6 separate regions of the Homo sapiens genome follow, and regions 1, 3, 4, 5 and 6 are each linked to region 2. Evidence: fine-mapped expression QTL. A gene starts in region 2. Each other region holds a variant in brackets. All regions are shown on one strand. Distances are from middle to middle.

Region 1 (5,074 bases), 64 kb before region 2:
AGGTTAATCAATAAATTAATATCACTGAGTGGAACAGGGAGATAGATCTGGAGAATAACCCAGAGTGTAACATAGACATGAGAGATGGAAATAGAACAGATAAGGGATACAAAGGACAGAATAAAAGGGTCCAGTAAACACTAATAGATGTTTCAGAGGGAGAGAATTCAAAGAATGAAGGAGAGGAAAGAGAGAGTAGATGAAAAGTCTTCACAACTGGTGAGTCATGGATCCTTGGTTCTAAGAAGCACAACAATCAAGTATATTAAGAAAAATAAATACATAACTGTAATAAAGAAACCAAAGAACACCAAAGGCCAAAAGATCCTACAATCAACTAGAGCAAAAAGACAGATGATCTACAGAAGAACAACAGGTTGATCAGACTCCACAACAACTGAATCTAGAGAACACTGGAATATCTTCAAATCATGATGAAAAACCATCCTTGATCTACAACAAATCACCCAACTAAACTCCACATCATTCCTTTGTTCCGAGGAAAATTTCGGAACAAAGACTCGAAGACCCTCAATCAAAGAATTACTAAACACTGTGCTTAATCCATTTATGCTGGAGATTGCAAATGTTTTTGTGAAAAATCAGACCTTGGTGATGACCATGAACAGCAGAATATAAAATAACTCCCACAAGCTTAGCATTCCAATAATGGAACACTAGGCAGAAATGGTTCAGCCCATTTATGGGTTAGAAGAACCCATTTCTTCTTCCCATTTATGGGAAGAAGAAAACAACACAGAGGCAAAGAACTGGAGAGGAGAAAGGGGAGGAGGAGTGCAGAGGGCATGACCTATAAGATCTTAAGAATTATTACAATGCCAGAGTAATGAAAATGATGGCTCAAAGACGAAGGTAGATAAAAGACCAAATGTAAACATGTGTGAGAGGAGCTCAGACTATGGCAGAGATAGAATTATGAATCAGTCAAAAATGGATGCTGTTAAAATGACTGATCATCCACAGTGAAAAACAATTGAATTAAATCTCTACCTCACATTTAGGTAAAAGTAAATTCCAGATGGATTAAAGACCTGATTATAAAAAATAAAACTTTGTTGGAAAAAAAAATAAAAGGATATAATTATATCATCTGAGTAGGGAGGATCTTTTAAAATGGGCACAAAAAGGCAAAAAGCATGAAGAGAATCCATCTGCCTGTCAAATCTCAACTTCGGTAAGATAAAAGACATTGTAGGCAACGTCTTCACAACTGGAAAATAAGGGGTGATACTTGAAATGCATGTCATTGACAAAAAAACTCCAGTAAGTCAGTAAGAGAAGAACCATCTAGTGGAAAAACAGGAAAAGGATGGAAATTCACAGAGGAAAAATAACTAAATAATGACAAATAGGAAAGGATGCAGAACTTCATTAGTGATCAGAGATTCTACCACTGAGCCTCACTTGAGAACCATCAGACTGGTGAAAATTAAAATCTGGTAACAAGAGATCTTGGCAAGAATGCGGGAAAGTGGGATTTCTTCTACCTTGCTGGCAGATGCATCAATTAATCAGTTTTGAGAGCCACTTGATAATGCCCAGCGAAGCTGAAGACGCTGTTCCTTGTTACTCGGCCGTTCCATTGCCTGGTGTGTTCTCTAGAGAAACCCACACATGGGCACCCAGAAACACAGAGATGACAGCTGCCTTGGGTGACAGGGAAAGAGAAAAGCCAGCCTCACTGTCTCTTACGAGAAGCCTGGAGGAAGAAAAGGCTTTGTCATGCAGTGGTTAGCAGATGAAATGGCTAAGCTAGGGTTAGAATGTGCTGAGATGGACAAATCTTTAAAAAGATGAAAAAGGACATGTGAAACACAGGCAAGTTGCAAAAGTACCGTGTGATGCTGTGGCCACAGATCTGTAAGCAGGACACAAAACAATAATGAATAGGATTGACGGGAACACAAGTGGCAAAGTAAGAATGAATGGGAAAGATACACACCAACTCCATTACTCTGGGGCGGGGAAGAGAGAGAATGGAAGGGAGAGGGAACATCTTGATTCTTAGAGAGGGGATATGAAGTAAATTATTAATAATAGCTGTTTTAAATCTTAGGGGAAGGCAGAGAAAACAAATTCTTGGCAAATGTCTTTACCACATTCAAGATGAAGAGGAACACTATTATTTCAACGTTTTAACCTAAAGACTACTGTTAATGGGGACAAATGTCGTTCTTCAGTCTGTGAACAAATCAGAAAATTTCTCCTAGGGCTATGCCACAGAAATGTCAACGCTGACTAGATTTCAATTATACTCCTTACACACACACTCTTTTGGGATAAGCACCAAAAGCTATCTTTAAAAGGGAGCTGGGAGAAGACTCAGTAATTTGCCTTCGGGGAATAACAGAGAAGACAGCAGTGCATCTCATCCTTCAGGTCTCAACTGAGACGTGACCTTCCCCGATAAGGCCTACCTGAGTTCGTTAACCAGTGATTTTTTAAAATAACAATGTCCAGTGTTCATCAAGACTGCAAGCTCAAAGCAAGGGCAGAGATCACGTCTTCCATTCACTGCTGGCACATAATAGGCAGGTATGAATGTATGGTTCATGAAAGAGTAAATCTGAGAAAGTTTTTTCTCTCGTCTGTTACTTAACTTGAAGGAACTGTAAGAAGCACTTCTTCAGTAAATAGCCAGAGGTCTCATACTGAGCCCTGAAGTTCATTTCAGATTCGGTTTGACAATCAGAATTTAGCACAGTTCATCAACTAATGCACCTAAAAATGATGCCTTTAAATTAAGGAAATAAAGTATTGCAGACAAGGTATTTACTGATGAAATGAGAATATCCTACTGAGTTATAGACATGAGACTTTAGCAGGAGCCGGCATGCGGGGCAGTCAGTCGTA[C/T]AAGACACAAAAGTCAAGGATTGCAAAAGCTGGCCGTGAGGACCATCTCATCTTCGTGCTGACTGCTACTCTATGGGGCTGTTATTTTCAGCTGGCTGATGTAATGAAAAGGGCCCTAGATATCCATAAAACTGATTCCAAGCCATATTTATCTGGTTCTTTAGGTTTACTTCTGAGAATTTGGAATATAACCTCTGAACCACAGAATCTCTGACCTGGAGGCTTTTATTATTATTATTTTAACTGGAGACTTTAAAAGTTAGTCAAGCCACACTTTTTTTTTTCCTAGAGAAAGTGATGGTTCAAGAGCTTGAATGACAGTCAGGAGTGAATCTACGTCCCACAGTGCTCCCTTTGTTATCCCCACACTGGTGGGACTCTGAGGCTTGAAGAGTCTTGTTGAATCCCAGTGATTCTCACCGATTTGAGGCCACAGCTATCTCTCTCTCTCTCGTGTGTGTGTGTGTGTGTGGTGGCAGGGGTGGGGGGACAGACAACAATATTCTTTGTCTTCCTTCAGTTTTGCTACTATGACATTTCTGTCTAAAAGGAAGTGCCAAAAAGTGCTGATAGTGGTTTCTCAAATTAAACAAGGTTAATTTTAATTTCTATCAATTTAAGGAAGCACCCATTTATAATACAACTGTTGGGAAACAAGAAGAACTTTCCTTTGGTGAGCTGTGCCATGCCTTTGTTTAACACAGTTGGTATATTTCAATGGTTACGTCGTATTTACTAAGTATTAAGATCTGGGTAATAACAAGCTTTAGTGTAATGATGTTTGACCGTTGAATCCATTTTTTTTTTTTTTTAGCAAAGAAAAATGTTTCAAAATTATGGATTTAATAGGCCGGGCGCAGTGGTTCATGCCTGTAATCCCAGCACTTTAGGAGGCTGAGGTGGGCGGATCACCTGGTTAGGAGTTTGAGACCAGCCTGGCCAACATGCCGAAACCCTGTCTCTATTAGAAATTCAAAATTAGCTGGGCGTGGTGGCGCACACCTGTAATCCCAGCTACTAGGGAGGCTGAGACATGAGAATTGCTTGAGCCTGGAAGGCAGAGGTTGCAGTGAGCCAAGATCACACCACTGCAGTCCAGTCTGGGTCACAGGGTGAGAAACTGTCTCAAAAAAAAAAAAATTATGGATTTATAGAAATTCTACTTGGAAGGTGCATTATGTTTCGTATAACTCATTTATTTATTTTATAGAATCGAATGCTGAGGCTCAAGCAACACAAAATTTAAAAGATTGGGAATCACCAGCTCAGAGGCCTTAGGCAAGTGGCATAAAACACATGCGTTCCCTCCACATGTTACTGGGCTTGACTGTTCTTTAGATAAATGAATGAGGAAAAAGTCATGCGTTTTTCTCTTTCTAAAGCGAGGGTTTTTCAGTATATGAATTTTCAAAGTCATTCCATGAGGCGCTGAGTTTACCCCCTCGCCAGGAGGTCTGGAATGAACGCCTCCAGTGCCAGGGTAAATTATAACATAGGCAGGAGGCTCAGGTCAGACCGCAACCCAGAGGTGACAGAGGCTGGGAGAAGGAAGGGTGAAGGGCTGGGAAGGCGGGTGCGGGGCAGGGGTCTCACTCATCAGTGGAGATTTATGCACTGTCCCACCGTGGACACCGGGGGAAGATGCTGGGGCGTCAGGACAGGGCCCATGCCTCAGAGGTAGGATTCAATTTCCTGTTCTTTTTTACACAGTGGCAACTCCCTTCTCATTGGGATCAGCTGTAGGAAAATTTGGGGTTCACATTCTGAGGCTGACAGGAGTTCTCAGACTTTTATCTGATCCTCACTCTTTCAGGCACCAAGTTGCTAGGACAAAGGCTAAAATATACCTGGAGGGGAAGTATACGGATGTGTCAAGAAGTCTTCAGGTAGGAAAACTAGGAAACGGCACATTTAGCCTAACTATGGATTCCGTTATTAGGTTTATTTAAACCAAAATCCCACAATAAAATGATTACACTTCAACTTTTGAGGATGATTCCTCTCTAGTATGAAAGAAAGCATGACATACTACACTTTCCATGTGGCATACCGTGGAGGTTTCTCTTTGATATTTAACAATGATCAATGCTTTCACAGCCCCATTAAATACAAACTTGGCTTTTTTATTTTAGATTACCTTAATGTTTTTGATCGACAAGATTACACTACCCTTAATTCCTATATGCCATTTGATCTGTCT
Region 2 (5,074 bases):
CTAAAACTGCACCTGCAGAGAAAGAGAAGAATCAGACCTATAATTAAAAGAAAAAGAAAAAAGGAAAAAGGAAAAACTTGCTACGTCAGTCAAAGTTTCAAATACAGTATTTTACAAGCTTCTCTATGGAGGCTACTGCATTTTTGCTTCTATTTTTGAAAAGCAGGGTCACTAAGGCATGAAAATAGAGGTTCCTCCTTAACACCTAGTCCCCTTTCTCTGGCCTTAGACCTCACAGGACAAAGTCAACAAAACTACTCTCACTTTTAAGATAAAGCAGTTAAGTTCTCTGAGGTCATCAATAAGAAAGCAGCTTACATTCCTGAATGAATCAGATAGCACCAACAGGGCAATCACCCAGACAGAGACTTTTAAAAGTCCAAGTAACTGAGTAATCAACACGGATGTGGAAAAAAAAATTTACTCAGAAAGTGGGAAGAGCCAAGTATTTTGAATGCGTGAAACTATTTCAGGCCTCTTTCATTAAACAGTATCCAAACTAAATTAGGGGAGGCAGATAAGAATGGATCTTCAAAATGCCTATAATCAAAGCATTTTCAGATGAACCAAATCCACATCTTAGCTAGCTTAGCTCAGTTTGAAAAATTCGATTACTTGCAATTGTCCACGATTTTTTCACTAATTTTCATCAGTTTACACGTGACTTCTGCAGGTTGTTGGAGTTTCTACCCTGATGCCAATGCTAGAGAAAACGACAGAGGAAAAGTGGACAGGTTGGGGTTTGGCTTTGACCTCAACTTGATTAAAAGACGACATTTAAACAGAGCGGGTCTAAACTCAATATGAGGACTTGTGACATTACAATGAAAAAAGTCACCTGCCCCTAATTAAAGATGACAATGCATTTTGAGATATATTTTCACGATGGCTCTTGAGTTATCATTTTTTTAAAAAAAAAAGTCAAATCAGGAAGATAAAGACTCTTAACAAGTAACTGAACACAGACAAGACTGTATTCCACTTTCCCCTCCCTGACAAAATACAAACCCTAGAGTGTGGTGTACACCTGTTAATTCGTCAGAAACTAGATGGATTTCTTTTCTTTCTTTTCTTTTTTCTTTTTTTTAAAGGATGCTTATCTGACTGCTATATGATCTAGTCTAAAACACCTTTCCAACCCAAATCAGCTAGCTAGAGATGTTGGATGTCAACAATTCCGCCTTGGGCTTGGACACGGCGTGAGCTTCTTTCTCCTTCTTAAAAAGAACAACAACGGTCATCCTTTTTCCTCCTTCTCTTGGCGGGGGGAAGGGGGAAGACCCCAGAAAACAAAAACAGCAAATCTCAGGTCCGAGGGTCCACGCTCGGCCTGATGGCCAGGCAGGTCCGCGGCCGCCCCAGCCCTGCCCCGGAGGCGCCCCGAGGAGGGCTCGGGCCCCCCGGTGTCATTGTTTGCTAATTTCCTGAGCTGCCCTCCGACTTGTTTACGTTAAATAACATCCCTGCTCCCCCCGCACAACTTTCCCCGCCGCCCGGCGTGTGCGGCCGCGGCCCTGCCTGCCAGCCCGGCGGAGGCACCGGGGGACCGGGAAGGACCGGGGGCTCCGGGAGGGCGCGCCCCCCAGCGTGGACCCCCGCGGGCGGCCGAGGGCGCGGCGCCCGCTGCCTGCCCCCGCCGCCCCGGCGGCCGCTTACCTCGGCTCACCAGTTTGAAGCTCTGGGATTTCCTGCTTCTTTTCCTCTCGGAGAACTCCATGGTGCGGGGAAGGCGGCGGCGGGGGCTGAGGAGGCGGCGGCAGCGGCGGCAGCGGCAGCGGCGGCAGCGGCAGCGGCGGCGCGGGCTCGTGTCACCGCGGCGGAGCCGCCGGGACCAAGGTCCGCGCCTGGAGTCGGCGAGGGGAGGCCGCGGGACGGGAGGAACCACCGCGAGCCGGCTCGGGGCTGCAGGCGCGGGGCCCGGCGGCGTGGGCTCCCGGGCGAAGTTGCCCCCGCGCGGCGCCGCCTCCCGGTGCCCTAGGCGCCCCCGCGGCCCCCGCTCATGCCGGCCCGCGGGTTCCAGACGCCGCCCGCCGCAGCCCAACTTTCCGTTGGGAGCGGGCCGGGCCGGGGCGCGGCGGCGGCGGCGGAGGCGGGGGGCGGCTCGGGGCGGCCGGCCCGCCTGGGCTCAGCCTGCGGTCGCGGCGGCGGCGGCGGCGGCCCCGAAGACGCGGCGGGCGGGCTGCGGGGAGGGCGGCGGCGGGTGCAGAGCCGGCCGGGGCGCTGACCGCCCCCGCGGGAGGAGGGGCGCCGGCGGAGGGGGCGGTGCCGCTGGGACCCCAGGGCCACCTGCTGGCGGAGCCCGGCCGCCGCCATCCCCGGGGGCCGCCGCCGGCCTGGCCGCGCGGCGCCCCGAGGAGGCGCGGAGGCCGCGGCGCAGCGCCCTGGCCCGGGCCCGGCCGGCCTGCCTGCCCCCGGGGACGACGCCGCCGCCCGGGCCTCCGCTCGCAGACCCCGCTCGCTGGCCTCCCTCCGCCGCTTGCTGGGCCGAGCTAACTCCGTGCACCTCGCCGTGGGGGCGCGGACCGCCCCGACAACCACCTCCCCGCCCTCACATCCCGGGCGCCCCGGGGCCCGACGCGCTGATTTTAAGCAAGTTTTAGGGGGAAAAAACTTACCCATTTGCGCTCTCTCTAGAAGGACAGAGAGGAGGTTTTAGAATATTGTGGAGAAGAATATAGTAGAGAGCTCCCATTCCCTAACCCAGGCTGGGCGGATTGTGGAAAGAGCCGAGTCACATTCAAGGAGAGCACTTGGAATGGGGGGCTTGGTGGCCCTGGGGACTCTCAGGAGGCCATGGTCAAGGCAGGTGCAGGGCACTATGCTTCTCCACGTCATATGTCGGAATCATGGACCCAAACACAAAGCGCTTAGTAGTTATGTGTAATATTCTTTTCGGGGGATCAGAGAGCGCACTTCAGGCACCATTTCTTTCTCACATCTTTCGAGTGGGCCAGGAAAAGAATTTCACACTACCTGGGAATGGTAGGACAGGAACATGACGGGACATGCGTGAAAGTATCTGCCAAACCCAACCAGGAAGAGGGTAAAGAGTCGGGGGATGGGGGGGCTACCTCTCCGGCACGGGACAAAGGCCAGTGGCCCCAAAAGAGTAGAGAGGAAAAAGGGGAGGTTGACAAATGTGATGAGTGTCACGTGGGTCTCACCCAAATGAGGCAGCCGCTGAGGAACCGCTCTTATTTCAGGGACACAGAGTAGGACAACTGCCGAGGAAGGGGGACATTGAGGCAGCTTGCAGAAACACACATGGAGAAACAGAACCAAAGAGCAGGGTAACCAGCAAACCAGGCAGTGGAGGCAGGGATGGGTACCCATCCCGAGATCTTGGGTGATACCAAAGGCGGCACATCCGGAAGGCTGGTTATACCTAGCGTGGAGGGGAGAGGGAGAACTGTTTCTTCCGTTCAATAAAGCAAACCCTTCAACAAGAGGTTCTTAACCTTTTTTAGTCACTGTTTCCTTTGAGATTGTGTTCAAAGCTCAAGGGCCCTTTTTCCCAGAAAATATGTATGGGACATATAAAATTTAGTATAGATTTATTGGAGTTCTTAGACGCGCTTTGCTGCTCTCAGAAAATTAGTGGTAACAGTGATTAAAGCAACTACCCTATTTGGGTTTCTTCCTTCCCTGCCACCCCTTTCTTTAAAATCAGGCATTAAAATCTGAAGATGTTTTGGATTTTTTTTTATTTTTTATTTTTTGAGACAGAGTCTCATTCTGTCGCCCAGGATGGAGTGCAGTGGTGCGATCTCAGCTTACTGCAACCTCCACCTCCCGGGTTCAAGCGATTTTCCTGCCTCAGCCTCCCAAGTAGCTAGGATTACAGGCATGGGCCACCACGCCCAGCTAATTTTTTGTATTTTAGTAGAGATGGGGTTTCGCCATGTTGGCCAGGCTGGTTTCAAACTCCTGACCTCAAGTGATCAGCCCGCCTAGGCCTCCCAAAGTGCTGGGATTACAGGCGTGAACCACCACGTCCGGCTGTTTTGGATGTTTTTAAAGAAACAAAGCATGCAATTTTGTTCCCCAGGCTGGGATCCATTCTTTCTTTATGTAATGCCTTTTAAAATGTTATTCTCAAAGCCGTAAGGCTAAGTTCTACACTGACTGAGGAACTTCCCGGATCGTTCATGCTTTGGAGCATATAATGAGATTTTATTATGCTTAAACTATGACGAACCCAGTGAAGGTGTCATCCCAAGAAGTAAATCCCTGGAGAAGGTATTAACAACTTAGCATTTTCAGTTCAAGTGGGAATGCAAATTCCATTTACTGAAGAGAATATTTTTGATATAGTTAAGAATAAAATATTTGAGTAAGAATATTTTTAAATAGTAGTCATTTCTCCTTGACCCTTTTTAACCTGGCTTTCCAAAGTTGGTCTATGAGTGAGTTGGCCTGCAGAGGACACAGGCTACGCTTGTCTTATTAGCTTTTAGAGAAAATAAATGTCTGTTTACTCTGCATTTTGTGCAAATCACTATGCTCTTATCTAACAAAAATGTATATATCACATTTAGTATTAAAATTAATAATAATGTTTAATTAAAATGAGGTTGCTTGGGGCCAGGTGTAGTGGCTCACACCTGTAATCCCAACATTTTGGGATACAGAAGGATTGCTTAAGGCCAGAAATTCAAGACCAACCTGGATAACATCCTGAGACCCGGTCTCTACCAAAAAATTAAAATATAAAATAAAACATAAAGTGAGATTGCTTTAAGTAGCAGGTATCCATATAGTAGCTGATCCTTATCCTTGGGGAGTATGTCCAAGACCTTCAGTGGATGTCTGAACCTGAGGATAGTACCGAACCCCGTATATACTATGTTACCATCAAACCCCATATATACCGTGTTTTTTATTGTTTTATGTTTTCTAATAACCAAGCCAACAAGTGACTAACGAGCAGATAGTGCAGACAATGTGAATACGCTAGGCTAAAGAATGATTCCTATTCTGGGCCGGAAGGAGCAGGTTGGCTAAAGATTTCATCATGCCACTCAAAATGGGGCACAATTTTAAATTGATGCATTGTTTATTTCTGGAAGTTTCC
Region 3 (5,074 bases), 35 kb after region 2:
CAAATAAGATGCTATTTGCATAAAGATGTTCACTGCAGAATAACTTATAATAGCAAAAGCTTGCAATGACCTAAATATCCAGCAACACAGGAGTGATTTAAATAAATTCTGGTTATAGTCCACTTAATGAAATATTACATAACTAAAGAAGCCACAATGAAGACTGTCAATCAAAATGTGAAAGTGGATGTGATATGATTAAATAAAAGAAAAAACAGGATGCAAAATAATAGGTGCACAATTATTACAAAGTCTATACACATGCAAATAAAATATGCGCCCTAATTTTATTAAGTGGTAACAGTAATTGTGTGATAGAATTACGTATGATTTTATTTTCTCCATTTGCTAAATTCCTATAATATGGTTGTATTAGTTTTAAAGGTTCTGTGATTCTAACTTCCTATTTAGAGTAATTTTACCTCTAATTTCAGTGATCATTTTGATAAATTTATTGGTGCCCTGATATATCCTAGGTCCTGGAATGAACCTTGAGGGAGGGTAAACAGCCATTTTGAGAAAGTCATGTTGTTTGTTTTTATTTTTTCATCAAGGGCCAAGCCAAACCTGCCTTTGGCAGTTGAGGCCCTTGATGAAAAAATAAAAACAAATAGCAAAACATTGTTTTCCAGGCAGCCCAAGAAGACCTACTTACTGGAAACTTATGCATTGGATTTATGTCGATTTCTAGCATAGCTGGGCCACAGCTGCCTCCCCGGCCACCAGGTGCCCATACTTTGTACTCATTTTCCCTTTCTCTGGGGGCTACAATAGGAACTAATGTTAAAATCAGCAAGCCCTAAGCATTGTTGAAATCAACGAGCCCTTACCACAACTGGCATGTTTTTTCCCCTTAATACTGCTTGTTTTTCATCTCTACCTTGAGGCAGTATTAACTTAGTTGATAAAATCATGGACAGACCTGGTTTGAAGTTCTGGGTGTTCTGCTCATAGCTGTGTGATCGTGGGTAAGTTACTCGACCAAGCCGTGTCTCCATCAGCTCCGGGTGTGATATTGCTACCTTATAGAATTGCGGAATGATGGTAAAGAGGCCCAGGAAGAGTTATCAGTAGAGCTATTTTGCCATCATTCAACCTCACCAAGTTGCTGCTGAGGGAGAAGGGTGCTGGCCTCTCAGTGGATCCTGTATCTCCATTTGGGGGAGGTCAGGACAGGACTGTGCACAAAGACCCTTTATGTTACAACTTGACATGTTTTCTGAAATGCCGCCTGCATTCATGACTCTCCTGGGACAGTTTAGATGTCACTATCATCCAGCATCTAGATACTCTTATGCAGCTACAGAATTTATTGAGGTAAATGTGCAACGATTTTCAGATGAGGCCGGAAACATAGCATTCTTTGTATGGCAAAGATGAATGTGTCTTAGTCCGTTTATGTTGCTATAAAGGAACACCTGACTCTGGATAATTTATAAAGACAAGTTTTTTTGGCTCACAGTTCTCCAGGCTGTATAAGAAGCATGGCGCCAGCATCTGCTTCTGGTGAGGCCTCAGGAAGCTTCCACTTACTGCAGGAGGGGAAGGGGAGCCAGCGCCAGCATGTGGTGATCACACGGTGAGAGAGAAAGCAGGAGAGAGAAGGAGGTGCCAGACACTTTTTAACAACCAGCTGTCGTGTGAACTAATAGAGCGAGAGCTCTGTCATTACTGAGAGGATGCACCAAGCCGTTCATGAGGGATCCGCCCCCGTGACTCAACCACCTCCCATTAGGCCCCACCTCCAATGTTGGGAATCAAATTTCAACACGAAGTTTGGGCAACAAACATCTAAACCGTAGCAAACAGGTAAGTGGGAAGTTCAGTAATAATTACCGAATTTATAGATAACAGGTCTCTGAGCCCATCTCCCCTGAATACTCCCTTTTGGGAGCCTGTGGCCAGGCTGATCTTGAACTCCTGACCTTGTGATCCACCTGTCTCAGCCTCCCAAAGTGTTGGGACTACAGGTGTGAGCCACTGCGCCTGGCCTGGTGCCTGCATTTTTTATTTTTATTTTTATTTTTTTTGAGACGGAATCTGACTCTGTCACCCAGGCTGGAGTGCAGTAGCATGGTCTCAGCTCACTGCAACCTCCGCCCCCCTGGGTTCAAGTGGTTCTCCTGCCTCAGCCCCCTGAGTAGCTGGGATTACAGGCACCTGCCACTGCGCCTGGTTAATTTTTGTATTTTTAGTAGAGACAGGGTTTCACTGTGTTAGCCAGGATGGTCTCTATTTCCTGACCTTGTGATCCGCCCAACTCGGCCTCCCAAAGTGCTGGGATGACAGGCATGAGCCACTGCGCCTGGCTGGTGCCTGCATTTTTTAACCTATGTTTCCTCTCTCTCTGTCACTGACTCTAACATGTCCCCTGTTGGCTGGATCCATGAACTTGCAGGCTATTCTTCTTGGATTACCTCTTCCACCTGGATTTTTTTTTTTTTTTTTGAGACAAGGACTCACTTTGCCACTTAGACTAGAGCATGGTGATGCAATCACGGTTCACTGCAGCCTTGACCCCCTGGGCTCAAGTGATCCTCCCTCTCAGCCTTCCAAGTAGCTGGGATTGCAGACATGCATCACTACACCTGGCTAACTTTTAAGTATTTTGTAAAGAAGCAGTCTCGCTCTGTTGCCCAGGCTGGTCTTGAACTCCTGATCGCATGCAGTCCTCTTGCTTCAGTCTCCCAAAGTATTGAGATCACAGGCATGAGTCACTGCACACAGCCTGTTTGGCATTTTGACAATGGCCCAAATTCTCTATTGCCTGCCTGTGGCTAACCCTCCTTGTCTGCTAACCCTCCTTCTTCCAGAGGAGGAAGACACGTGTGGGTCTTCCTCCTCACCTGGTCCAGTTCTCACCTGACCACTTTGCCAAAGCTGACAAGAAACTGCTCCTCAGCACCCAGCTTCCTCCCACAGGCAATAGAGATCTTTCAACAGGGCTGATACCCACTATGGGAATTCAGAAGAAAGCTGGGCAAGTGATAGGACAAGGGAATGAAGCCAAGAGGTGGTAGAAAGTGGGAAAGTGGAAACATCAGGGAAGGATCATGGAGGGAGAGGAAGAACCGTAAAGTC[G/A]TTCAGGTAACTGTTGGTGGATGATATGGTCTGTGTAAGAGTTGAAGAAGGAAGAAAGAAGCACAAAAAGTGGCTCAACAGTCAAAGACAGGTTTATGTTAAAGAATAAACCTGAGAGGGGCTTCTGGCCGAATTAGGTCAGGAGCACTCTCTCTTACAGACTAAGAGTTTTTAAGAGGTCAGGTCAAGAGAGCGCATCACAGGCTGGGAATGTTTCTGTGTCTCTTTGTCTTGCTTATCTGGGAGAGAGAGTTTTGTGTCTGTTCCCATACATCTTCCTGCAGGTACAGGCATACCCACTGAGTCTGCTTTTAGCTTTCCTAGCTTAGTGCACCTAAAGGAAAAGGAATGTGCTTATTAGGGCCCACTGTTTTACTGGGGCCCATTGTATGAGTGTGAAGTTTGGTGGTTACCCAAGAGACTTTCCCCCACTCCTTCTGGGCCCGAGCTGTCTTATCTGTGTTTTGCTATCTGCCCTTTCTGGCTTTTTCTTGTTAGAAGAGAAGTGATTTCCTTGAAACGCATGAGGGTAGAAAGGGAGCTAGAACTTAAAATGGCAGTGTTTTTCCAAGAAGACAGTGCTCCTGCTCTGTCAGTTTGGATCTGCATCCCCACCAAATCTCATGTTGAATTGTAATCCCCAGGGTTGGAGGTGGGGCCTGGTAGGAGGTGACTGTACCATAGGGGCAGATTTCCCATGAATGCCTTAGCACCATCCCCCTCGATACTGTCCTCATGATAGTCAGCGAGTTCTTGTGAGATCTAGTTGTTTAAAAGTGTGTGGTACCCACCCCCATCCCCTGCTCCTGCTCCGGCCATTTAAGACGCATCTGCTCCCCCTTTGCCTTCCACCCTGATTGGAAGCTTCCCAAGGCCTCCCCAGAAGCCGAGCAGATGCCAGCATCATGCTTCCTGTACAGCCTGCAGAACCATGAGCCAATTAAACCTGTTTTACTCATAAATTACCCAGTCTCAGGTATTTCTTTATAGTGATGCAAGAACAGACAAATACAGGGGATAAAACACTAGAAAGAATGGGGATGAATGGAAAATGGAGATCTATGACGAAGAAAAATAAAGTGTGTGGTGGTTACAGTTGAAAATAAAAAAAGAAAATGGGTGTAATGTTTGGAGGGGAGGCGTGCAGTGGAGGTGAAGGTGGAAAGGTGGGCTACGGGGCCATTTCAAGGCAGGATTATAAGGTGGGCACCTGAGACAATCAGCCAATGACTGCCATTAGAGGGGCTGTAACAGCTCTTGCCTTCAAGAAAGATGGGATTCAAAAGATGGCTTAAATAAATACAAAAATATATAAAATAAAGTAGACTATTAAACATAATAAGAGAAGTTCAAATAAATCATGGTGGGATCACACAAAAAGGACGTCATGGCATTCAACATTCTGTCCCTTATCTCTGAAGAGTTTTGAGACTGAAATTTGGGGGGTTCTTTTCTTTTTCTTTCTTTCTTTTTTTTTTTTTTCTGAGATGGAGTCTTGCTCTGTCGCGCAATGGCGCAATCTTGGTTCACTGCAACCTCTGCCTCCCAGGTTCAAGCAATTCTCCTGCCTCAGCCTTCCGAGTGGCTGGGATTACAGGTGCCTGCCACCATGCCTGGCTAATTTTTGTATTTTTAGTAGAGACGGGGTTTCACCACATTGGCCAGGCTGGTCTTGAACTCCAGACCTTGTGATCCACCCGCCTTGGCCTTCCAAAGTGCTGGCACTATAGGCATGAGCCACTGCCCCCAGCCTTGGGGGTTCTTTAGTAGAAAGTTACCATGTAAATATATTAAATTACTAAACATCTTCAGCAATCAAAAGAAAATCATGTTATGTTTGATAGCAGAAACTTACCCTGATTTAGGGTCTATTTATAATATTAAATTTATACATTTAGAAACACTTTATCTCATTTTTTTTTTTTGCCTCAAAATCTCTGTTGGTTAAGTAAAGTATGATCTTTATTTTGCAAATGACTGGCCTAATATTATA
Region 4 (5,074 bases), 47 kb before region 2:
CTGTCATTAAAATGGACTATGGTCATTTATGGTTCCCTAATTTCCAAATGCTTTCATAATATTAATATGCTGCCCTGGGGAAAAAAAAAGAAAATTAAAACAATTCCTCGCTGCATTTCAGAAAAGCACCAGTAGCCTTGACCTTCTTGTTTTGAGAAGGGACCCTTCTTCACTTCAGGAAGTCCTACTTACATCATTGACCATTTTTCAAATTCTGTCATGTTGTTTGTAGTGTCACTTCAGGCTGAATCACTCTTTTCAGAAATGGCACAGTTTGTGATATCTCTGTAGCTTTTCATATTTAATACAACTCAACTGTCACTTTAAGTGAAAAAATTCTGATTGAGCATGAGAAATTCTCTGTTAATGAAGGCTTATGTCCTTCTGGCCATGAACAAAGGGTGCTTGGTACTTGCTAGTTCCATTTAAATACCGTATTATTTTATAAAGTTAATTGTGGACTTTCAAGCATCCTTTAAACACTACTGAATTCATTTACTCATTTTGCCAGATAATGGGGAACAGAAGGGGGCAGAGAAGGCCCTCTGCGTCAGTCCCACTTCACAACTCAACAATGCAGGAACTGAGCTAGGAAGCACAGCACCCCTATCCGTTATTCCAGTTTTAAGCAAGGCCTGATTCAGAGTCTCATTTTTCATGGAGTTGTGTTTAGTTTTGAGACTTGGTTTATGTTCTTTTTGGTAAGAACTAAGTACTTCTATTTCCTAAAGTTACACTCATCAGATTGCTTAATATGGGCATTTTAAAGTTAAGAGAAGTAGGTTTAGGATGTGGCACTGGATATAAATGCAGAGGTGCTCCCACGTGCCCCTGCATGGTCATCGTAGTGCAGTGGAATACAGATGCATGCTCAAAGGAGGGAAGGGGGAGAGACCCACGGTGGTCTCTGCATGGAGCTGGCATGACTCCACGGCACAAAACAAGAGGGAGAAGAGCGGGCCAGGCATGTGTGGGGACGCACAGGGTTTGATGTCACAGTAAGGTCACTTAGATTTAAAATGTCTTTAGAAGCAACAACCTGGTAAAGCAACTCTAAACTTCAGAGAGAACCATTTTACTTTATCTTTTTTTTTTTTTTAAGAAGCATCATAGCTTTATTCTCATAACTCAAACTTTAAGTTGAAGTCATATTCTGAGGAAGCTCTTAGAAATTACAAATTACCTGCATTTTAAAAGTCAAGAAAAAACTTCTTTTTGATTCTGCAGCAGGTCAAACTGGCTCTTAAATTATTATTTCAACAAATTAACATTACCTTGAATAATGAATTCTAGTGGTACTTGGGGTGGTGAATTACAGAGCTCACACCCGAAAGCCATGTGAATGGCTAAATTGGCAATGGCAAATGAAACTGGCCACTAGTCAGTTTACTACAATTTCAGCTGCATCGTTACGGAATGAAGGGAAAGCTCAACGAAGAACCCACAAAATGAAATGATGCAGACCAACCTTTTATTGCACCCACAATATTTTGGTCTAGTCCTTTCCGGTTGTCATTGAGTCCTCTTTTCCTCTTCCCATTGGGTAAGGAGTTAGCCAAAGTCTTGTCATCAAAAAACGCACACACCAGTTTTCTAAACAGAAGGCTTCCTGAGCGAGTGTAGTTTGACAATATAGAGTCCAGCTGAGATTTAGGCATAAACACGTCAAAGCCTTCAGCAAGTTGTACTTCTGGCTACCAAAAGAACACAGATATTTCATTAAAAGCAAGATTTGAAGCATCTGACTTTGGGTACATGAGCAACAAAAAAACATCACTAGCTACTGAAATGTACATATCCTACAAATGAAAACACTCTTGGCTTTCTTTGTCTGCCAGGATCTGCTATTTATAAAACCAAGGACTAGTTATAACTTATGAAACAAGATGCTCTAATTCCAATATTGAGCCTTGTCAAAAGCAATGGAAAGAAAATAGCCAAGAGAAGCCTGGACAACCACAAAATCCTATCATTCTAGAGCTAACAGGGAGTTGAGACTTCTGGATGAAATATCCTCATTTTGTAAACAAAGGAACTAAGGCCCAAAGAGATCATAAAAAAAAAGATTGAGAAATAATTCAAATGTGCTCAGTGCAGTACAGTTACAGATCACTTTCTCATACACTAAATAACTTAATTTCTTTCCCCTAAGGACACAGATACGGGGCTAACCCAGAAGGCCCCTGGCTCCTTCTACTATGCCAGTGGCTTTTAGCTGCAGAGATATTTTTTTTCCCCAATGAAAACTTTTGTAAACTAATATGTAAAATAAGTAAAAACGATGAGCAGGTTTCCCAGGCAGTTTAAATCCACTCCCCATCCCTAATTTTGGAAGGAAAATGTGAAACTATGTCCCAGATCACTCTTGGAAAACCAATGTGCTAGCACACTGCTTCCCTGGCAGGGACATCCTGACTGGGATACGGAATCAGAGGACGTCCAAGGTGCCTTTCAACTTGGACGCTATCGCACACGCTCGGCGCTCAGCACGCCTTCTCCAACAGCA[C/T]GCCAGGAGGTTTACAGCTCACCTTTGAATCTTTCAACCCAGTTCATACCCTTTCCTTTACAAAGCCTTCCAAATGAACTGATCTCCTAACTCCTTCCTGCCCATGGAGGTGGCTACAACTCTCTGTTCCTGCTGTTCATTTAGCAGACATATGATTCTATTTCTTACACTGTATTAGAATTATTTATTAGATTGCAGCCCTCCCTGATCCTGAAGCTCAGACTTTGTATCTCTAGGATCTGGCATATAGCAGGCACTCCATAACTTCTTGTGGAATAGACGAAAGTTCATTAGTCATAACCTGCACTACTAAGTCATTTAGTTTATTGTTGGTTATGACATGGTAGCTGTAAAATAATAACTTTAATATGAAGAAATGCAATTGGTAAACTGTTGTTAGGAAAAAAGTCTGAAGAAAACCTCACTGAATTAAGACATGCTATCAAAGCTGATTCTTAGATCTCCTATTCACCACTCTGCAAAACTGGCCCTGCTTTGCAGTTTCTAATCACATCAGAAATGTGAGGATCCGGGATGAATTTCTCTCCTGGATAGTAAGAATGATTATTTTTGATTTTGTCCTATCACTTTTCAACATGCCACCCCACCTATGGTCAAAGTAAACAGGGCTCAGAGCATAGCTTCAATTCTTTGGATGACACAGGAAGGAGTTTGGGCCTGGTCCCTCCAAAATAGAACTTTTAACTGGAATATCCAGAAAGTCATCTCACACTTCTGCTTCACTTTGCCATTCCATGTTTGGTCTCTGAATGTTTGGTGAATATCACCATACACAGCTATACTGTCAGGTTTTCCCCTTAACTTCTGCATCTTGCTGCTTGCTGGTTCCAGGTCTCCAGAGGAGGTTGTCTGAGCTGGAGGCTGCATCCCTAGATCCCAGAACAGAGGTGGTACATACCAGGCACTCAATATGTCTTTGTTGAATGATTCAATGTAGACACTATTAGGATTGAGAGAATTTTACCATCATAATCTAAGATGAAGTTTTATTCATAACCAGAGTTTTATTTTGCACATCCTATGCTGCATTTAGAACTTTTGTTCTAAATGAACTGATCTTGGATTTTTGCTAAGTGCTCCTGTATCATTTGAAAGCCATTAAAACAAATCCAAGTTTATCTTACAGAAGCAGCTAATCACAGCTATTTGAGGATCTAGTGTGGTTCAGACACTCTTAATGGCAAGAGAGGAAGGGGAAGGACACTAGTTACTTATATAATCTCAGTTTGATTCTGATACCATTAAACAGGTACTTAAAACGCTGACCTCTGAGACTTCCCCTTTGATTCATCCTGTGAACATGGACCCCAGTTTGAAAAACACTGACCTGAATGAGCTACCAGGCGGAACTGGCCACTCCCTTCTTCATGCGCTCATACTGTTTCTAAGAACTCTGTTTACAGCACTTTTCACACAGCATTTGCTTAGCTGGGAGTTTGCATTTGTCATTGGGATGAGGACTCTTGTATTTGGAGTGTCAAACACCCATTGACTGCCCAATAGATATTTGTTAGAATAAACAAAACAATATGTAAGAATTCATTTAAAATGACTGGTGTTGATTCACAGATCTTTTATCCCTGTATAAAGAAAGTGGGTTTGAAAGTTTGCCACGCTGTGCTCAGCACACCTGTGTCTTCTAACAGTTCATGTGGTACCTCCAGGAGTTGGGTGACCTGGAGAACAGTGACCCAGCTGTTTCAATACCTACTCACTGAGCCCCCTCCATGTGTAGGAATCTGAAGGCTGGTTCTGCAGGCAAGACATATGCACAAATACCTATCCTATAAAGTCGAACGTGATAAAACATGAGAGAGAACAGAGCAAGTGCTGTCTGAGACAGCATCAGGCAGGACTTGGCTGCTGGGGGTACGGGAGGAAGGGGGCTCTTGGGGCTCAGGAGGGGATAGGACAGTGTTTTAACAGGATCTTGAAGGTAGGATTCAGGAGACAGGTACAGCCGCTGTTTCTGGTATCTGCCACAACTCCTAACAACTAAGTATCTGGAAGTTTCTGCAGAGCTAAGAGACTTCCAATGCAGATGCTGTCACTGCTTTCCATTCCACTTTCTACTGCCAAATACTGTTATTTTGAACTGTTCTTTCCAGATCAAGGAACATGAACTCACCCCTTTGCAAGCACCTTACAAAGGAGGAAGTAGTCTGATTAGTGGAGGCGGTGGTGGCAGCGGCAGCCGGGGCACAGGTGACTGGGCTCTGTCCTTCCTGTTCTTCTCGGCCTGTCTCCTATTCAGATTTCTAAGCCAGGAGTGAACAAGCGCCAATGCTATCTACGTGTGCCAGGTGCCGCAAGGCAACAACGCCTTAAAAGAACAAAAGAGGGCAGCTTTGTTTTCTGAAACATGAAGAAAAGATGACGTTCACTAATCTCACATTTTCACTAAGAAATCTTTTTATTTCCTCCATTTGATAAATGTAATCACAGTGGATTACTATCACATAATGATCCACATCTTTGTACGTATATTTAAAAACAGGATAAAGCTCTTTCTTTAATTGTATCATTGAAATCTCTTAGTTTACTGAC
Region 5 (5,074 bases), 41 kb after region 2:
CCATTAAAAAAATTCACCACTAAGAAGGAAAAATAAACATTCTCAATTATAACTGCGTGATGTCATCAACTGAAAAAATATGTCCCCTTTTCAGAGAAGTTAAAACTGAAAAAAAAAGTCACGTTAAACTGGGTGAAATGTGGTCTTTAACGGTGTCTTGATAGATATTTCTAACACGTGGGGGACATTCATAGCCAGCTTTTCCCATGGCCATTACTACTGCCACTTGCAATGTTCTCAATGTTCTGTCCCTCCTTTTGGAACGTGCTGTCAATTGTAGCAGCTGTAGTTATAAGTAGTTATAAACAGTGCTTTTTTTTTTTGAGATGGAGTCTCTGTCACCCAGGCTGGAGTGCAGTGGGACGATCTCAGCTCACTGCAACCTCTGCCTCCTGGGTTCAAGCAATTCTCCTGTCTCAGCCTCCTGAGTAGCTGGGAATACAGGCGCACACCACCATGCCCAGCTAATTTTTGCATTTTTAGTAGAGACGGGGTTTCACCATACTAGTCAGGCTGGTCTCGAACTCCTGACCTCAGGTGATCCACCCACCTCGGCCTCCCAAAGTGCTGGGATTACAGGCTTGAGCCACTGCGCCCGGCCAGTGGTGCTCTTTTTGATGCAAACCTGTGAAGATTGTATATTTTGGATGTGATGGCTAACACAGAAGGATGCAGTGGCAGAGGATGCTAAAGAGTGGATACAATAGGAAGAGTATGGAATATATCAGAGGATAAGATGTTTAGGGAGGGGGTGCATGTGTCTTTTTAACCACTATGATATAGAATATTTCCATTTCCCTCCTCCTCCAAAAAATGCTCCTTCGTGACCCTCTGCAGTCAATTCCCAGCCCAAGCCCCAGCTCCTGGCAGTCACTAATCTTTCTATCACTATATTTTTAATGCTCCTGAAATTTCATATAAACGGAATCATGTAGTATATAGTATTCTGTGTCTGGAATACTTCACTTAACATACTGTTTTGGGACTTTCCAGGTTGTTGCATATATCAGCTGTTCATTCCTTCTTTATTTCAGAATACAGTTCCTTTGAATGAATGATACTATGGTGCATTTATCCATTCATTAGTTGACATGTATATTTGGGTTGTTTCTCCAACCCAACAAGGAAACATTCAGTCTTTCACCATTACATATGATGGTGACTGTAGGTTTTTGGTAAATGCTCTTTCCTACTTTGCTGCAAGTTTTTATCATGAATGAGTGTTGGATTTTGTCAAATGCTTTTTGTGTGTGTGTCAACTAAGATGGTCACATGATTTTTTTTTGTTAGCCAGTTGATACAGTGGATTACATTGATAAATTTTTAATTAATCAATTTTTGTTTGTTGAGCCACTCTTGCATATCTGGAACAAGTTCTACTTTATGTCCTTGAATAACCAAAGCAATTCTAAGCAAAAAGAACAAATCTGAAAGCATCACATTACCTGATTTCAAATTATACTACAAGGCTATATTAAACAAAATGGCATGGTACTGGTATGAAAGTAGATACATAGACCAATGGAACAGAGTGGAGAAATCAGAAGTAAAGCCAAATACTTACAACCAACTGGTCTTTAACAAAGCATACAAAAACATAAATTGGGGAAAGGACAACCTATTCAATAAAAGGTGCTGGGAAAACTGGATAGCCATATGTAGAAGAATAAAACCGGGTCTCTGTCTCTCACCATATAAAAAAATCAACTCGAGATGGATCAAAGACTTTAAGACCTGAAACTATAAAAATTCTAGAAGAAAACCTAGGAAAACCCCTTCTGGACATTGGCCTAGGAAAATAATTTGTGACTAAGGCCCCAAAAGCAAATGCAATAAATAAATAAATAAATAGGACTGTATTGAAGAAGCTTTTGCATGCCAAAAGAAATAATCATCAGAGTAAACAGACAACCCACAGAATGGGAGAAAATATTTGCAAACGATGCATCCAACAAAGGGCTAATATCCAGAATCTACAAGGAACTCAAACAAACCAGCCAGAAAAATAAATAATCCCATCAAAAAGTAGGCAAATGACATGAATAGACATTTCTCAAAAGAAGATATACAAATGGCCAGCAAATATATGAAGAAATGCTCAACATTACTAATCATTAGGGAAATGCAAATTAAAATCACAAAGAGATACCACCTTACCCCAGCCAGACCACCATTATTAAAAAGTCAGAAAACAGGCCAGGTGCAGTGGCTCAAGCCTGTAATCCCAGCACTTTGGGAGGCTGAGGTGGGCAGATCACCTGATGTCAGGAGTTCGAGACCAGCCTGCCCAACATGGCGAAACCCCATCTCTACTAAAAATACAAGAAATTAGCCGGATGTGGTGGCGGGCGCCTATAATCCCAGCTACTCGGGAGGTTGAGGCAAGAGAATCACTTGAACCCAGGAGGCGGAGGTTGCAGTGAGCTGAGATTGCACCACTGCACTCCGGCCTGGGCAACAAGAGCGACACTCTGACTCAAAAAAAAAAAAAAAAAAAAAAAAACCAAAGTCAGGAAACAATAGATGTTGGCACAGACATGCTAAAAAAGGAAGGTGGGAATGTAAGTTAGTACAACCTCTATGGAAAGTGGTATGGAGACTTCTTAAGGAACAAAAGTAGATCTACCATTTGATCCAGCAATCTGGCTACTGGGTATCTACCCAAAGGAAAAGAAGTCATTCTATCAAGAAGACACCTGCATATATATATTTATCACAGCACAATTCACAATTGCAAAGATATGGAATCAACCAAAGTGCCAATCAACCGATGAGTGGGTAAAGAAAATGTGGTATATATACACCATAGAATCTACTCAGCTGTAAAAAAGTGAAATAATGTCTTTTCAGCAACCTGGATGAAGCTGAAGGCCATTGTTCCAAGAGAAGTAACTCAGGAATGGAAAATCAAACACAGTATATTCTCACTTGTAAGTGGGAGCTAAGCTATGGGTATGCAAAGTCATGCACACTGGTATAATAGACTTTAGAGATTCAGAAGGAAGGAGGGTGGGAGGGCGGTGGGGGATAAAAAACT[G/A]CATATTCAGTACAATGTACAGGACTTGGGTGACAGGCACACTAAAATCTTAGACTTCACCACTCTACAATTCATCTGTGTAACCAAAACCACTTGTACTCCAAAAGCTATGGAAAGAAAAAAATCCTACCTTTTCATGGTGTATAATGATTTTTATACATTGTTGGATTCAAGTTGCTAATATTCGGTTGAGGAATTTTGTGTCTAAGTTCATAAGTGATATTGGTCTATAGTTTTATTTTTCTGTAATGTGTTTGTTAGGTTTTGGTTTCTGGGAAACTGGCCTCATAAAAATTAGTTGGGAAGTACTCCCTCTTATATTTTCTGGAAGAACTGCAAAATTGGTGTTACTACTTTAAATATATGATAAGTCTCCAGTGAAACTCTCAGGACTTGGAGATTTCTATTTCCACCCCACAGGGTTTTGTTTGTTTGCTTGTTTGTTTGTTTGAGACAGAATCTCTCTCTGTTGCCCAGGCTGGAGTACAGTGGTGCACTCTCAGCTCACTGAAACCTCCGCCTCGCAGGTTCAAGTGGTTCTCCCACCTCTGTCTCCCGAGTAGCTGGGACAAGTGTGTACTACTGTGCTTAGCTTAGTTCAAAATACTTACTAATTTCCAGCCTGGGCAATGTGACGAAACCCTATCTCTACAAAAAATAAAAACAAAATGAGCCGAGTGTGGTGGCACATGACCATGGCACAAGCTATTTTGGGGACTAAGGTGTGAGGATCACTTGAGCTCAGGAGGTGGAGGCTGCAGCAAGCCATGATCATGCCACTGCACTCCAGCCTGGGTGACAGCAAGACCCTGTCTAAAAAAATGAAACTTGCTAATTTCCCTTGTGATTACTTTTTTGATCCTATGGATTATTTGTAACCGTACTGTTTAATTTCCAAATACTGGAGTTTTCTAGATATTTTTCTGCTATTTCTAGTTTAATTCATTGTTGTCAAAGAACATACACCGTATATTTTTAATTATTTGAAATTTATTGAGAATTGTTTAATGCTTCAGAATATGATCTTAGTGCATGTTCCAAATGGACTTTAAAAAGAGTATGTATTCTGATGTTTGGGGCAGAATGTTATATAAATTTCAATTGGGTCATGCTAATTGATAATGTACAAGTCTTATATATCCTTGCTGATTTTCTGTCCACTTGTTCTCTCAATTACTGATAGTGATGTGTGGAAATCTCCACCTATAAGTGTAGACTTGTTTACTTGTCCTTTGAGATCTAACATCTTTTGCTTCATGCATTTTGACGCTATGTTAATACTCATTTGAGATTGTGATGTCCTCTTGGTGCAGTGACATTTTTATCATTATGAAATGTTCTTCTTTCTCCCTATTAATGTTCCTTATTCAGAATTTTGCTTTGTCTAATTAACATAGTCACTGCTATGATCTGAATGTTTGTAGTCTCTCAAAATTCATATGTTGAAACTTAACCCCCAAAGTGATGGTATTAATAAGTGGGGGCTTTGGGAGGTGATTTTTTTTTTGAAAGAACTCTGCCCTCACGAATAGGATCAGTGCCTTCATAAAAGGCTTGACCCTTATAAAAGAGGCCAGGCTTACCCCTTTTGCCATGTGAGGACACAGCACGAAGCTGTCATCTATGAGGAACAGGCTCTCACCAGACACCAAATCTGCTGGCATCTTGATCTTGGGCTTCCCAGCGTCAGAACTATAAACTATTGTTTATAAATCACCCAGCCTAAGATATTTTTTACGGCAACTCAACCAGACTAAGACAGGTAGTTTCATTTCTTTTTATTAATGGTTGCATGGGAATATCATTTCCCATCCTTTACCTCTAACTTTATATTTAAAGTGAGATTCTTGCAGTGAGCCTGGATCGTGCCACTGTACTACAGCCTGGGCGACAGAGCAAGACTCTGTTTCAAAAAACCAATGAGACAACATACAGTTGATTTGTTTTTGAAAATCCAGTCTAATAATTTCTGCCTTTCAATTGTACTGTTTAGTCAATTTGCACTTAATGCAATTATTATTATCATTATTTTATGTA
Region 6 (5,074 bases), 35 kb before region 2:
TTAACCTATCATTACACGGAGTAAATGGCATGGCGCTGCCACCTAATTAGTGGTGTGGCTTGCATCTATAAAATAGAATTAGCATGACTGCTCCTTTTTTATTATTAGTTTGTGTTTCCAGAAAGGTGCGATCTTATCTGTATGGCCCTGTTCATTTATGCCCATCTACAAAGGATTTAATTATATTCTTTTAGGTCTCTACACTAAGGAAATTGAAAATTGTCACTGCAAAATTAAAAATGCAAAAGAAATTAGTGAGCAGATTATTTACGCCATCACCCTCCTCCTTTCGGAGACAAAAACTGGAAACCTGTCTAAATAAATAAGGCATCACATTTTCAGAAAAGAAAACTCCAGACAAGAAAATTATTACCAGTCTTCTTTTCTTCTTTCCCACATATAGTCTGCAAGTTTCTCTAGTTGTCAAAAGGGAAATCTATAAATACTATAAAATTCCCAAAAGTTACATAGCATTAGAGTCAGCAGCCAGAAAATGGCAACTTACATCTGAGGAAGGTGATTCCAGAACAATGCCGAATCCTAGAACGCGGCTCTCCTCCGGGGAGGTGTGCTCGGCTGCCTGGAGAGCAGATAGCTCAGAGGCCACCACCGACTTTTTCTCCATCTCTGACCCACTGGGCTTCTGTTTCACAGTAAGAGGTTCCACAGTCTTTGGGGGCACTTTTTTCTTTTTATTTCTCTTTCGTGAGACAGCAGTTCGCTGGGAGCATATAAGGGAAATTGGAGGTTGTTGTCTGTTTTGAGTTCCAACTGCGAATAATAAACAAAAATATGGTACAGGCACGTGTGTCTGACTTAGGAAAACTTATCTCCGGTCTATCCATGTGATCTACAAACTGAAACCGAAACGAGGAAAACTCCAGGATGAAGCACACTAAATAAATCTCCAACTGGACCTAAAGGTTACCAAACGCAGGCTCTGAAGCACTTTCAAGTCCTAAAGGCAGAAAAATACTCAGGAGAAAGCGTTACTGCAGGTGAATCGTGACAGCATACTGCTGTTGGGTTCAATGCAGGGAAAGGATCATGAGCTGTGAGAAAACACCTGAGCATGGCTTTATAAATCATAGGATGTTTTTAAATAAATGAGAACTTCGGGATTTAAATTTAGATAGAGACGGCTGTGCTTCCTTGTAATCCTGTTTCAGGATTACATTTGGGGTTAGACTGATCCGTTCCTAATAATCTACAGGTGCCAAAACTGATAAAGATGAGACAGTGATGATCATTTGCGCAAGACTGATCAAAAGAAGCCGTCTGGGATGATTCTACATTAGGGACCAGTAAGCATGTGGGAAAAGCCTATTAGTTACTTAATTAGGACCAGTGAATCCTTCCTCACCAAACAAATATTCTCCACACATCAACCACCTCCAGAGCACCCTGCTACATGGCCTCAGACCAGGCTACTTCTCTAGACCTCGGTTTCACATAACTGAAGGAGCAATATCATTCTGTACAAGTCAAGCAAATCAGTGAAATCTAGAAACAGTTCCAAACATGAAAAGCACAGTACAGGAACCAAGTATTCAACCTGATTCTATACTTAAAGAAATCCAGGATGGTAAATTACAGTTCTCACAGGTGCACTCTGAGAAGTTATGTTTGCTAGCCATTTAAAAATACTCTCTTGGAAAGTGTAATTGGAAAACATGGCATCATTGTTTAAATCCTCAAGTATTAATATAGCTTCCTAAATATGACTATAGGATGTCCCTGCTTTTCAACAGAAATGAACCTATAAGACAAGTGAAAACTAAAGGTCTTTAAAGGCATATAAACATGAATCACCTCCTCTTACCTCTTATCAGTCTGAAAATAAAGAATATTTACACTTTGATCCTGATATTTTTGTCTCCAAATTCAAAAGCAATTCATAAATATTAGAAGCAAACTAATTGCACTACATAAGAGCACAGAAGTTTTTAAACCAGTAATTAGTCTAGCTCAATGGTTCTCAACCTTGGTTGTACATTAGAATCACTTGAGTTTAAAAAAACTGAGATGCCGGGCCAGGCATGGTGGCTCACCCCTGTAATCCCAGCACTTTGGGAGGCCGAGGTGGGCGGATCACGAGGTCAAGAGATCGAGACCATCCTGGCCAACATGGTGAAACCCCGTCTCTACTAAAAATACAAAAATTAGCTGGGCATGGTGGTGGGCACCTGTAGTCCCAGCTACTTGAGAGGCTGAGGCAGGAGAATCACTTGAACCCAGGAGGCGGAGGTTGCAGTGAGCCGAGATTACGCCACTGCACTCCAGCCTGGCGACAGAGTGAGACTATGTCTCAAAACAAAAACAAAAACAAACAAACAAAAAAACTGAAATGCCTCAGCCCCACCCCAGACGAAGTGAACTGACACCTCCAGGCATGCTGCCTGGGAAACAGCATTGTCTGAAAGCTCTTCCAGTGATTCTGCTGTGCAGCCAGAGTTGGGAACTTCTCTTTGGTCTCTCTGCATTCCCCCTCAAGGCTGGGTCTGCACCCTCAGAATCAAAGGGACCTCGAATAATGATCACGATGGTCTAGGCCCCAGGCCTTGCTAAGCCTCATGATTCTCAATTAGAAATGAAAATGTTTTGGTTTAAGGAACACGGGGACTATCTGAGTTTTTCTTCTCCTTTTGCAAATCTAGACACAGCCCAAGTCTCTGGCATCCAGATCTTACCTCTAGGTCTTATTCCCTGTCTTCTTAAAAGAAAGGTGAAACTTTCTAAATGTAATTTAAATCTAAGTCTTCAGGCATTAAACCTTAAGTAAATCTACCCACATGACACAAATTTTTAAGTTTAAGAAAATTAAAGGAGAGTAATTTATTCAGTTTATCCTTTGTGCCATCCTACAGCTTTGGAATCGTTTACCTCCCTAATCTGCAAAGGTTCAGAAAAGAAAACATAGCGACAAAGTGGCATTTACTTAATAGATTCTAAAAAGGCTTCCGTCAAGGATTTAAATGGTTGCAATTTGTAGTTTGCCATTTCAGTAGTAAGGAGCTTAAGTGACAAAACAAATCATTACAATTTCATATGCATATTTTCTTAAGTGCTAACAAATTCCTCCTCGGAGAAAAGAATCC[G/A]AACATCATAAAGTAACCTTTCTTTCTGAGCTCCTTATTTAGGAGATGTTAACCTCCTCCAGGTTAATAAGAACACAGATTATCGTAGTGGAACAAGGTGAGTCCAATGCTTACTGACCTGAGCAAAATACTTCCTTGGGGTAAAACCAAATTCAGTGCTTAAAAAGATGCTGTTTAGCCCGGCGCGGTGGCTCACGCCTGTAATCCCAGCACTTTGGGAGGCTGAGGCGGGCAGATCACCTGAGGTCGGGAGTTTGAGACCAGCCTGACCAACATGGAGAAACCCCATCTCTACTAAAAATACAAAAATTAGCCAGGCGTGGTGGCACATGCCTGTAATCCCAGCTACTAGGGAGGCTGAGGCAGGAGAATCGCTTGAACCTGGGAGGTAGAGGTTTCGGTGAGCCGAGATCATGCCATTGCACTCCAGCCTGGGCAACAAGAGTGAAACTCCATCTCAAATAAAAAGATGCTGTTTTTCAGAAAGTAGCTCACATTACTTTAATGTGATCTTGGGTGACTGATATATCTAAGTATTAATTAAGCTTTTTATATCAAAACCACATCACTGAATATTAAAATTATACTAGAATTCACTAAATGGCATCCTGAACAGCTTCTGAGTGACGACCTTCCGGACTACCATCCTGATGAAAGGGCAGGAAAGCCAGTCACGACATGGCTTAGATCAAGTGGTGATGTCCCTTGACAAGAGGGAAAACTTAATACAATGATTTATTTCTTGTACCTGTGACAAAAACAATTCTGTTTTCCCTCAATTGTGAAGATCAGAAAATACAGCTGCTATAATGAAGACGTAGACTTCCAGACTTCTATAGAACGCTTCATGGACTTTAAGACCACACTAATGAAACAGCTTAGGCTTGTACCATGCCTTATAAAGTTCATTGACAGCTACTACATCATTCTATTTTGACAACAGCCCTGTGAGTTAGATATGAATTCTCCATTTACAGACGTGAAATAGGAAGCTCAGATGCGCCACACAGCTCCAAAAGCAGAAATTGGCATCCAATCCCAAATTACAAATCCACTGCTCTTCCGTCCCTCAACTTGCCTGATGGCAGTGAAAACAAAAAGGAGTCACATAAACAAAGACGACAGAACACGGCGGATTTCTGAGCTTCCGCATCCTGAATAGGAGAGAGAAAAGCCACAAAGCATAGCCTGGGGCTCCACATTTCTTATCTGCTTAGTGCTTGAACACTGAAGCCCATGCTTCCTAAAGGACCCCTCCATACACAGTTGTTCCCAAATTTAATTAACTGACATTTGTGAAGTACTAGGAGATCATGGAATGAAGTCTATCGAGTACATACACATAATTATATGAGCTGTATCAGTAGCAAGACAAAATATGTTTGATTTGCTAAAGGAAAAATGGATTGTAGAGAAAGCTGAAAAAACAGATACTTGAAAAGGCACAGCAAGACAGCAAGGTGAGAAGAAGGCTTTAATAAAAGCACAATGAACATTCCAACGGAAGATGTCAGATATGCATTAAAAATCAAAGGACTCATTCCGAGGCCTGATCCTTGTACCTGCTTGAATTTGCATTAATTTCCTCATGGTCTTGAGTTCTTGTAGAATGGCCTGCAACGTTGACTGGCAGTTACAAGTACAGCAGTTTGATCCAGCTGATGAATTCACCACTGGAAGTTCTCCTGAGCATGAAAGAAAAGAATGACATACTCCAAACAAACCAAAAAAAAAAAAAAAAATCATAAAGAGGTGGAGAGAAAAAAGAAAGTATCTTGGCAGGATTTTGAAGCATGTGCAATTATGATGAAGCTGTGCCTAAGGAAAACGTACCCACTAATTATCACAACCTAAATCTGGGGGTCTGACTTTATCTAATTATCCAGGCTTCCATACTGTAACGTGCGTGCTGTGGCGCGGTGCGGGAGCCCGCATGCACACACACACACAATGAGTGGGCACAGCAGGCCTCCCTA

Which allele goes with the higher level. Alleles are on the strand shown, and positions count from the first base shown. SD is a standard deviation of normalised expression in the study named. Not every link is listed here.
For the expression in skeletal muscle of the gene that starts at base 2,198 in region 2, allele C in region 4 goes with a lower level than allele T (small effect, 0.17 SD a copy in GTEx).

The links. PIP is the estimated chance that this variant, and not a neighbour inherited with it, causes the effect.
Region 1: its variant is the best candidate, but not a certain one, in a credible set for the expression of BEND7 in lung (TOPMed, PIP 0.61).
Region 3: its variant is the best candidate, but not a certain one, in a credible set for the expression of BEND7 in whole blood (Lepik 2017, PIP 0.85).
Region 4: its variant is the best candidate, but not a certain one, in a credible set for the expression of BEND7 in skeletal muscle (GTEx, PIP 0.55).
Region 5: its variant is the best candidate, but not a certain one, in a credible set for the expression of BEND7 in whole blood (INTERVAL, PIP 0.87).
Region 6: its variant is the best candidate, but not a certain one, in a credible set for the expression of BEND7 in whole blood (INTERVAL, PIP 0.85).

What each region holds. Positions count from the first base shown.
Region 1 is chr10:13,462,558-13,467,631 of GRCh38, forward strand. The region is part of intron 6 of BEND7 (BEN domain containing 7); the gene reads right to left. Among named protein-coding and RNA genes, the nearest start is that of BEND7-DT, 64 kb to the right of the region's middle. The variant C/T (reference allele first, on the strand shown) is at 2,875.
Region 2 is chr10:13,526,817-13,531,890 of GRCh38, forward strand. BEND7 (BEN domain containing 7) reads right to left here and starts at 2,198. Exons shown (of 9, transcript NM_001369863.1): 1 at 1,657-2,198. The coding sequence starts at 1,717. BEND7-DT (BEND7 divergent transcript) reads left to right here and starts at 1,788. Exons shown (of 2, transcript XR_930674.3): 1 at 1,788-1,836; 2 at 3,204-3,448.
Region 3 is chr10:13,561,498-13,566,571 of GRCh38, forward strand. No RefSeq gene overlaps it. Among named protein-coding and RNA genes, the nearest start is that of PRPF18, 23 kb to the right of the region's middle. The variant G/A (reference allele first, on the strand shown) is at 3,082.
Region 4 is chr10:13,479,431-13,484,504 of GRCh38, forward strand. BEND7 (BEN domain containing 7) reads right to left here. Exons shown (of 9, transcript NM_001369863.1): 6 at 1,469-1,694. Among named protein-coding and RNA genes, the nearest start is that of BEND7-DT, 47 kb to the right of the region's middle. The variant C/T (reference allele first, on the strand shown) is at 2,507.
Region 5 is chr10:13,568,093-13,573,166 of GRCh38, forward strand. No RefSeq gene overlaps it. Among named protein-coding and RNA genes, the nearest start is that of PRPF18, 16 kb to the right of the region's middle. The variant G/A (reference allele first, on the strand shown) is at 3,038.
Region 6 is chr10:13,492,106-13,497,179 of GRCh38, forward strand. BEND7 (BEN domain containing 7) reads right to left here. Exons shown (of 9, transcript NM_001369863.1): 4 at 4,661-4,783; 5 at 506-771. Among named protein-coding and RNA genes, the nearest start is that of BEND7-DT, 34 kb to the right of the region's middle. The variant G/A (reference allele first, on the strand shown) is at 3,099.